Linked DNA regions of Homo sapiens: region 2 is linked to region 1. The links come from fine-mapping of genetic effects on gene expression. Tissue or cell type: whole blood. Region 1 holds a variant in brackets; the other region holds the start of a gene. Each region is shown on its reference strand, or each on the opposite one. Region 1 has its middle 24 kb from the start of FOXJ2. Region 2 holds the start of HGD (homogentisate 1,2-dioxygenase).

Region 1 (5,384 bases):
AGGAGAATCACTTGAACCCAGAAGGCAGAGGTTGCAGTGAGCTGAGATCACACCATTGTACTGCAGCCTGGGTGACAAGCGCAAAACTCTGTCTCAAAACAAAACCCAAAGAAAAACAAAAAAAGCCAGGCACGGTGGCTCACTCCTGTAATCTCAGCACTTTGGGAGGCTGAGGAGGGTGGATCACCTGAGGTCGGGAGTTTGAGACCAGCCTGACCAACATGGAGAAGTCCCATCTCTACTAAAAATACAAAATTAGCCGGACGTGGTGGTGCATTCCTGTAATCCCAGCTACTTGGGAGCCTGAGGCAGGAGAATCACTTGCACCCAGGAGGCGGAGGTTGCGGTGAGCCAAGATCATGCCATTGCACTCCAGCCTGGGCAACAAGAGTGAAACTCTGTCTCGAAAAAAAAAACAAAACAAACTAACAACAAAAAACATTCTCTTAAGCCAAAGCCTAATCCAGAGGAGGGCCCTAACTGTCTTTAAATTTTTTTTTTTTTTTTTTTTGAGATGGAGCCTTGCTCTGTTGCCCAAGCTGGAGTGCAGTGGCGCAATCTCGGCTCACTGCAACCTCCGCCTCCTGGGTTCAAGCGATTCTCCTGCCTCAGCCTCCCAAGTAGCTGGGCTTACAGGTGCCTGTCATGCCTAGCTAATTTTTGTATTTTTCAGTAGACATAGGGTTTCGACATGTTGGCCAGGCTGGTCTCAAACTCCTGACCTCAGGTGATCCACCTGCCTCAGCCTCCCAAAGTGCTGGGATTACAGGCGTGAGCCACTGTGCCCAGCCAATTTTCTTTAATTTTATGGAGGTTGAGAGAGGTGAGGAAGCTGCAGAAGAAAAGTTAGAAGGTACCAGAATTTGGTTCGTGAAATTTAAGAAGCTGTCTTTATAACCTAAAAGTGCAAGGTGAAGCAGCACCTGCTGATATAGAAGCTGCAACAAATTATCCAGAAGATCTAGCTAAGATAATTAACAAAAGTGGCAACACTTAACGACAGATTTTCAGTGTAGATGAAACAGCCTTATATTGGAAGAAGATGCCATCTAGGACTTTTATAGCCAGGAAGGAGAAGTCAATATCTGATTTCACAGCTTCAAATGATAGGCTGACTCTCTTTTTAGGGGCATTAGCTTCATTATGTAAATCTGCTCGGCTTATGCCCTATAAATGGAACAACAAAGCCTGGATGACAGCATATCTGTTTATAGCATGGTTTACTGAATTGTTTTTTTTTTTTTTTTAATTTTTAACTTATTGGCTGGGCATGGTGGCTTACACCTGTAATCCCAGCACTTTGGGAGGCTGAGGTGGGAAGACTGCTTGAGCCCAGGAGTTCGATACCAGCCTGAGCAACATAGTGAGACTCCACCAATTAAAAAAATTAATTTTTATGGGTGTATAGTAGGTGTATACATTTATGGGGCACATGAGATATTTTAATACAAGTATACAATGTGTAATAATCACATCAGGATAAATGAGGTATCTATCACTTCAAGCATTTATGATTTCTTTGTGTCACAAACTTTCCAATTATACTTTTTATTTTTAAGTGTACAATAAACTGTTTACTGTAGTCACCCTGTTGTGCCATCAAATACTACATCTTATTCACCCTATTTAAATATATATATACACATTTGAGACACAGTCTTGTTTTGTCACCCAGGCTGAAGTGCAGTGATGTGATCTTGGCTCACTGCAACCTCCGGCTCACAAGTTTAAGCAATTCTCATGCCTCAGCCTCCTGAGTAGCTGAGACTACAGGTGTGCACCACCACGCCCGGCTAATTTTTTGTATTTTTAGTAGAGACGGGGTTTTGCCAAGTTGGCCAGGCTTAACTATATTTTTGTACCCATGAGCCATACCCACTCCTCCCGCCTCCACTACTGATCTCAGCCTCTAGTAATCATCATTATATACTCTATCTCCATAAGTTCAATTGTTTTAATGTTTAGTTCCCACAAATGAGTAAGAACATGTAAAGTTTGTCTTTCTGTGCCTGGCTTATTTCACTTAACATGATGGCCTCTAGTTTCATCCACGTTGTTGCCAATGACAGGTTCTCATTCTTTTTTATGGTTGAATAGTACTCCATTGTGTGTGTGCATATATACACACACACACACACACACACACATATATACACACACACACACACACACAGAGCACATTTTCTTTACCCATTCATCTGTTAATGGACACTTAGGTTGATTCCAAATCTTGACTGTTGTGAATGGTGCTGCAATAAACATTTGTATGTCTTCTTTGAGAAATGTCTATTTAGATATTTTGCCATTTTTAAGTTGGAATTTACTGAATATTTAGATTTACTGCTCAGAGAAAAAGATTCCTTTCAACATATTACTGCTTACTGGCAACACACCTAGTCATCCAAGAGCTTTGATGGAGACATACAAGAAGACTGATGTTGTTTTCATACCTGTTAATATTGCATTCAGGTGGCAGCCCACAGATCAAGGAGTAATTCTGACTTTCAAGTTTTATTATTTAAGAGATATATTTCATATGGCTTATAACCACCATAGATAGTGACTTCTTGGATGGATATGGGCAAAATAAATTGAAAATCTTCTGGAGAGGATTCACCATTCTAGATGCCATTAAGAACATTTGTGGCCAGGCATGGTGGCTCATTCCTGTAATCCCAATGCTTTGGGAGGCAGAGGCAGTCATATTGCTTGCTTGAGTCTAAGCTGGGCTTGAGTCCGAGAGTTTGAGACCAGCCTGGGCAACGTGGTGAAACCCTGTATCTACTAAAAATAGAAAAAATTAGGTCGGGGGAGAGGTGGGACACAGTGGCAGGTGCCTGTAGTCCCAGCTACATGGGAGGCTGAGGTGGGAGGATCACCTCAGCCTGGGAAGTTGAGGTTGCAGTAAGTATGGTTTACTGATTTTTTTTTTTCTAATGCTTAACTTATTGGCTGGGCATGGTGTGATCATACCACTGCACTCCAGCCTGCGTGATGGGAGTGAAACTCTGCCTCAAAAATAAATAAATAAAAAAAGAATTTCCTACCACCAAATTTTTAAAAAAAGAACATTCATAATTCATGGGAGGAGCTCAAAATATCAACATTAACAGGAGTTTGGAAGAAGTTGATTCCAACCCTCATGGATGACTTTGATGGGTTCAAGACTTGAGTGGAGGAAGTAACTGCAGAAGTAACTGCAGAAATAGCAAGAGAACTAGAATTAGAAGTGGAGCCTGAAGATAAGGCTGAATTGTTGCAATCTCATGAGAAAACTTGAATGGATGAGGAG[T/C]TGCTTCTTATGGATAAGCAAAGAAAGTGGTTCTTAACATGGAATCTACTCCTAGTAAACAGCCTGTGAATATTGTTGAAATGGCAACAAAGGATTTCAAATATTACATAAATTTAGTTAATAAAGCAGTAACAGGGTGTGAGAGAACTGACTCCAATTATGAAAGAAGTTCTACTGTGGGGAAAATGCTATCAAACAGCATCACATGATTCAGAGAACTCTTTCGCGAAAATAAGAGTTAATAGATGCAGCAATTCTTCTTCTTCTTCTTATTATTATTTTGAGATGGAGTCTTGCTCAGTCACCCAGTCTGGAGTGCAGTGGCGCGATCTCAGCTCACTGCAAGCTCTGCCTCCCGGGTTCACGCCATTCTCTTGCCTTAGCCTCCCGAGTAGCTGGGACTACAGGCACCTGCCACCATGCCTGGCTAATTTTTTTTTTTTTTTTGTATTTTTAGTAGACACGGGGTTTCACCATGTTAGCCAGCATGGTCTTGATCTCCTGACCTCGTGATCCACCCCGCTCGGCCTCCCAAAGTGCTAGGATTACAGGTGTGAGCCACCGCGCCTGGCTATTATTGTCTTATTTAAAGAAATTGCTACCACCACCCCCAGCCTTCGGCGACCACGACCCTGATCAGTCAGCAGCCATCAACGTTGAGGCAAGACCCTCCACCAGCAAAAAGATTGTGACACGCTCAAGGCTCAGGTGATTGTTAGCATTTTTTTTTAGCAAGAAAGTATTTTTAACTTTTATTTATTTATTTATTTATTTATTTATTTATTTATTTATTTTTGAGATGGAGTCTCGCTCTGTAGGCCAGGCTGGAGTGCGATGGCGTGATCTTGGCTCACTGCAAGCTCCGCCTCCCGGGTTCATGCCATTCTCCTGCCTCAGCCTCCCGAGTAGCTGGGACTACAGGCGCCCGCCACCACACACAGCTAATTTTTTGTATTTTTAGTTGAGACGGGGTTTCACTGTGTTAGCCAGGATGGTCTCATTCTCCTGACCTCGTGATCTGCCTGCCTCGGCCTCCCAAAGTGCTGAGATTACAGGCATGAGCCACTGTGCCCGGCCTATTTATTTATTTTTTTGAGACAGAGTTTTGCTCGTCACCCAGGCTGGAGTGCAATGGTGCAATCTCGGCTCACTGCAACCTCCGCCTCCCACGTTCAAGCGATTCTCCTGCCTCAGCCTCACAAGCAGCTGTGATTACAGGCATGCGCCACCACGCCTGGCTAATTTTTTTGTATTTTAGTAGAGACGGGGTTTCACCATGTTGGTCAGGCTGGTCTCGAACTTCTGACCTCAGGTGATCCGCCCGCCTCTGCCTCCCAAAGTGCTGGGATTACAGGTGTCAGCCACCGCGCCTGGCTGTATTTTTATATTTTTTCGAGATAGAGTCTTGTTCGGTCGCCCAGGCTGGAGTGTAGTGGTGTGACGTCAGCTCACTGCAACCTCCTCCTCCTCCTGGATTCAAGCGATTCTCCGGCCTCAGCCTCCTGAGTAGCTGGGATTACAGGCTCCCGCCACCACGCCCAGATAATTTTTTTGTATTTTTTGTAAAGACGGGGTTTCACCATGTCAGCCAGGCTGGTTTTGAACTCCTGACCTCAAGTGATTCACGCACCTTGGCCTCCCAAAGTGCTAGGATTACAGGCGTGAGCCCCCACGCCCGGCCGCAAGAAAGTATTTTTAAATTAAGGTATATACATTTTTTTTAGACACAATGCTATTGTACCCTTAACAGACTACAGTATAGTGTAAACATAACTTTTACGTGCACTGGGAAGCCAAAATATTTCTATGATTCACTTTATTGAATACTAGCTTTATCACAGTTGTCTGGAAACAAACCTGCACTATCTCTGAGGTGTGCCTGTATTTAGAATAATCAGTATCCTTCCTCTCTAACCATTCCACCATTTTTTATCCCCTTATCTTGCTTTATTTTTCTTCTTAGAATTTATCATTTCCTTCTCTATCAGGGCAGTCCCAGGCACCAACAGTGCCTGTAGTATAATAGCTACTTGAGAAATATTTGAATGAATGAGTCATAAAGAACTACTATATCTTCCCAGAAAATTAACCT
Region 2 (5,384 bases), not on the chromosome of region 1:
TTAAATTTAATTTTATTACTTTATCTTTTGAATTTTCTTACCCCAGTTGTACTTTTGTGTAAATGTGATTTCATTTACGGCTTTGTGTTGACATATTCATTAAAATGAAGAAATAAAAGATGAGAAACAGTTTTAAAAATTATATAATGTTTATTGATTAGAATGAATATGATGCAATCTGGTTTTCTGTGTTCAGATTCCTGACCTCTGGAGTTAACCTTTCTTTGTAAAGATTAGACAGCAGGCAGGGAAGAATGCCTTTGAAACTGAGAGCAAAGACTGGCATGCAATTTACATTGATGTCCTGGTGCTGTGCATAATAAGTTGCTTAAACATGACAGCAGGATAGGATTTTACATAAAATTTATTTATAAATGGTAAAGATGTTTCCAACCTCTGCTGAACTTCCTCATAGAATGTTCATCAGAAAACAAAGTTTCTATCTACTCTTTCTTCCAAGACTTCAACTCCTACCACTGACATCATGACCCTCAGTTCTATTCCCCTAGCCCTGCCCACTCCCCTGAAATCCAGATCCATAAATCCAACCACCGCCTGGGTATCTCAGTTTGGCTGTCCCTCCATCAACTCAAATTTGGCTGACACAGTTTTGGATTCTAGAGCATGCAGGCATTCTGTATGTGCTGTGCCTTTGCACTCACTCTTCCCTCCAGACCCCGTCCTTCCTCACTTTGCCAGTTCCAACTTCTCTCTGAAGACTCAGTTTAGGTACAGGCTCCTTTAGGAAATTTTTTTTTGACTCTACCTAGCCCAGACTCAGTTCATCTACGATATTAATCTGCAGTGTCATGCACTAGCACAAAATATTTGCTGAATGAAAGAATGAGAGTTAACTTTTAGTCAGGCATAAAGATAAAAAACCAAAGTCTTTTACTCCGGTGTGGAGTGTTTTCAGGATTCCTACCAATTAGGAAGGTGTTTGATTCTTCAAACTCAGAAACACCTCCCCTTAACTGATGGATTCTTCAAACTCAGCATCAGTTAGAGGGCATTAGGGCACTTCTCAAACCCTGCATTCAGGGAAGATGTCTGTTGTGGGGTGGTCTGGCCTACTTGGCCTGAGCCAAGGTTCTGGGCAGTTCTGTTCAGTTACACATGCATGCGTTGAGCATTGATTCAAGCCTGGCCTGGGCACTAGGCATGGTTTTAGATATTAGGGACATATTCTGTTTTCCTTGCCTTAAGATACCAGTCTAGTAGGAGCCACTAAGGCCCCTTTTTGAGCCTGGACTTCGCATTCAAACATACCCTGCTTCTAATCAAGTCATCTATTGGCAGTGACCTTGGGCAAATCATAGTCTCTCCAAGCATTACTTTTCTAATTGAAACAAGAACCTCTCTCTATACCCCAGATTTATTTTGAGGATTATGAGTTAATTCATAGCTAAAATGCTTAGCACCTAACAGCACATAACCCACACATACTTTTCAATTGCGTATTACTAAAAAGAAGGAATGATTTCCTAGAGGAGGTGCTTCTTCTGGCCAAGGGCTGATTCAGAGCCTTAATTAACTAAATAGATCAAGCATATCTAACTGGTCACCGGAAGTGGTCCATGAGGCTGCAGCAATGGGAAGGTGTCAGAGCAGGGGTTGGGAAAAAGACATAGAGAGAAACGTGCATGTCCGTAGTGGAGGGGAGCTCTTAGGATGTCTACAGATTTCCAAGACAATAATTGAAATGAACAAAGGCAAGGGATGACCAATAAGAGCTTCATTTCTTTCCTTTATCACCTTTCCCTTGTTCTTCAGCTCCAGCTGTGCCCACAGACACCACAGGGAAGCCTCTGAACACAGGGGTTTGAACCAGGGCCTCTCTAAGTCTTTTCCAACTCTGATACCCTGAAGTTCTCAGAAACTTCCATAAATTTTGGCTGAAGAAGCCATAGCAAACTTGTCAGATGGTTTCTTACCTTTAACTCAGCCATTTTCTCTCTCCTCTATGTGTGGTGACTTCAGGAAACCCAGGCCCAGAGGATATAAAGCCACAATGCTTCTTTCTCCTTCAAACCACTCTTTGGATATTCCGGTTCCCACTGCTTCACTGCGCTTCACTGGTCAGTGCGTCACTCAAACTAGCTGAAAGAATTGTCTAACTCATACACAGGGACAAAGTCCAGCAAGCTTATTTAACCGGTTACACAATTGCCTTTGGTTTTTACAGTTTGTTCCTAAGTGTTTCCAGAGGCTTGGTTCCTCTTCACCTGAGGTAGAGATTGACCAATTATTTATTCCAGTTAAAAGTAGGCTTATTTCAAAAGGCAGAGAATTTGAAGCTATCGGGGAAAGGAACTGTGGCAGATAGTGCCTGCTGTGTGTGGTGGAGGATTCTCTGCTCAGTCCTGACTCAGGCTAGGAAGGAACAGGGCAGTGCTGAGTCTCCTGGAGAGCAGTGAGAAAACCCCCAGGCATTTACCAGCTGCAGATGTGTACACTGGGGTAAGATGTTTACACACAGCCACCTGAAGACAGGGACCAGGACCAGAACCAGTTTTCTGCAGGTGCCTCCCAGGAATGAGCTCAGGTTCTTGGGTGAACCATTCAGAGCCTGAGATATTTCACTTAGAGCAAACTGATATGTTTCCTACTGCTCCTTTTAATTTCTTAAAGTACGTTTAGTTTTCTTATAAATTCTTTAAGAGTTTTGTTTCCTAATGCCTCTATACTTCTAAAACAGACCAAGGGATTATTCTCCAGCCACCTCCTCTATGACTCCCTTGTTCTTCATCTTGGCCGCTCTCCTTGGTCATTGGCAGGTAGCAGCTTCATGACTAGTGGTGTTCAGAAAGGAGAAAACATATATTGAGTTTCTGCTTTTGTCAGATTTTTCCATATCTAACTTCACAAAAACAATCTTGTAAATTAGGCATTATCACAACTCAAATGCCAACAGATGAGGGAGGAAGTGTAAGTGAATAAAGTAGGCTAGCTGATTTTTCAAGATAAGATGAAGCTCCAATTTTTAACCATTGGTAATTAGAGTGAGAGAGACAGAGAAACCACCCTGTGGTAGATGGCAAAAAATGCTCCAATTCCTCCTATCCTTGTATGTGTGCCCCTTTGAATGTGACTTTGCTGTTCCTCCCATCAAGAGGTAGGGTCTTTTTCTTTGGCTAGTAGCAAACATGACACAGAGTTTGAAACATGCCTGTGCCTTAGGACAGGGCCCATTCTTGCAGCCTGAGACCACAGTGCAGAGAAGCTGGGCTGGCCTCCAGAGGTCCAGGCAACAGCCCTGCAAGCCCCACAGGAACTGCCAGACATGTGAATGAGGCAGTCTGGCTGCCAGGTGACTGCAGAACATGTGTGATCCCAGGCAAGACCAGCAGAAGAACCACCAGTTAAATCTGGCCCGAACTGCTGAGCCACAGAATTGGGAACAAATAGAATGGTGTATTTCACACTACTAAATTTTGGGGTGGTTTGTTAAGCAGTGATAAATAACTGATATAATCATGCAGGTTGAAAAACATGTGCATATTTGAAGTGGCCACAGGCTGCTAGTTTGAGACCCTCTGCTTTAGATAAATGGGCTTAAACAACCTCCAAGGGTCCCCAGGCTCCAGCATACTGCAGTAGCAGCAGAATTATTGCCTGTGTATGAGGTGCTAGCACAGACTGGGCCAGACCAAAGGGGACATGTTGATAGGAAACATGCTGGTAGCAAACCATGTGGACTGATGCCTACGGACCGGGCAGCTGATAGGAAACCTCAGCATATGTCAGCATAGACAGATGGCATTGTGGCATTATATAAACTATTCTGGAATTCATATGCAAACCTAGGAGGAAGGTAGGTGGAGGCCCTAGCTTTATTGAGGCTAAGTTTTCACTATTCCTATAACATGCAGACTCTGAAACTGAATTCGAAGAAAATATCTCCTGTGTATCTAAGTTTATGAGTACCTTGGGCCTTCAATCTCTATTGATCTTGGAAGTTAGCAGTTGGTCATTAGATAAACAAATGGGAGCTAATAAAAGACAAAGGGAAATCTTTACTGCCTTATTTTTCAACAAACTTTCTATGTTACTTCCATTGAACCAGTTGTGAAGGCAGATTTAAGAAGTGTTTCAGTTCTTTCCTAAGGTATGAGAGACTTCTGAAGGGGTAAGAAAGTGTTAACAGTTCCTTGACTGGATTAAAATTACTTTGAGGGGCTTGAAAATATTTAAAGTTGAATACATCTTTCACTAAACTTTAGGGATTCCTTCTAAAAGGAGAGAATACACACAGGGGATATTAAAATATTATTTTATTATTTAATTTTTTTTTTGAGACAGGTTCTCTGTCATCCAGGCTGGAGTGCAGTGGCACAAAAATGGCTCACTGAAGCCTCAACCTCCTGGGCTAAAGCGATCCTCCCATCTCAGCCTCCTGAGTAGCTGGGACTACAGGCACACACCACCACACCCGGCTACTTTAAAAATTTTTTAGTAGAGATGAGGTCTCGTCATGTTGCCCAGGCTGAACTTGAACTCCTAGGCTCAAGCAATCCTCCCACTTCAGCCTCCCAAAGTGCTGGGATTACAGACGTGAACTCCTGCACCTGACTTAATGTTTTTTTTTAGAGACAGAGTCTTGCTGTGTCATCCAAGCTGGAGTGCAGTGGCATCATCACAGCTCACTGCAGCCTTTAACTCCCAGGCATAAGCCATCCTCTGGCCTCAGCCTCCCAAAGTATTGGAATTACAGGCATAAGCCATCATGTCCTGCTGGGATTGGAGAATAAATAACTTACACAGCTACAGATAAGTTCTGATTCTATGTCTAATGGCTTTCCATTTTAATTAATGTAATTATACATTCATTTATTTAACAATTTTTGAAAACCATCACAACATAGTGTAAGTGCTCTGACAGGAAAGAGCCCAGGGATCTAGGGGAAGCACTAGTGGGCACGTAGCCCAGACGAGCAGAGCCAGGGAGGGCTTCCCAGAGAAGACTATGTCTGAGCCAAGTCCCATAGAGTAAGAGTTGGATAGAAAGTGGAAAACATTACATCCAGGAATTGCTACAAGGTAATGTGAAGCAGGGTGTGACAGGTCTACAGAGTAATCACTCCAAAACGGAGTTAGGCATCAGAGGACTCCAGGACAGATGTCTCCGAGAAAAAGATGGAACGGAGAGATTACCTGATATACTTGATGGTACTGAGCGAGGTTTTACACCTTGGTTGGAGTTTAGGGGTTCCATTCTTTGTCATTAGTTATTGATGACCTCGGTAAAGCTTAGTGATTAGCCAGCTGAGAAAACACAGTACTAGAGAGGGGGCTGTGTGTAAGATGGCAAGGCACTGGTTAGAAATAAATATATTTGGATTAAAAACAGAACCCAGGGGAAAAACAGTGGCAGTAATAAAAAT

What was found. PIP is the estimated chance that this variant, and not a neighbour inherited with it, causes the effect. A credible set is the group of variants that fine-mapping cannot tell apart.
Region 2: HGD starts here. The variant in region 1 is the best candidate, but not a certain one, in a credible set for the expression of HGD in whole blood (TOPMed, PIP 0.59).

What each region holds. Positions count from the first base shown.
Region 1 is chr12:8,006,212-8,011,595 of GRCh38, forward strand. No RefSeq gene overlaps it. Among named protein-coding and RNA genes, the nearest start is that of FOXJ2, 24 kb to the right of the region's middle. The variant T/C (reference allele first, on the strand shown) is at 3,293.
Region 2 is chr3:120,680,163-120,685,546 of GRCh38, forward strand. HGD (homogentisate 1,2-dioxygenase) reads right to left here and starts at 2,077. Exons shown (of 14, transcript NM_000187.4): 1 at 1,935-2,077. The coding sequence starts at 1,949. It overlaps RABL3 (RAB, member of RAS oncogene family like 3), which reads right to left. Exons shown (of 8, transcript NM_173825.5): 8 at 4,776-5,384.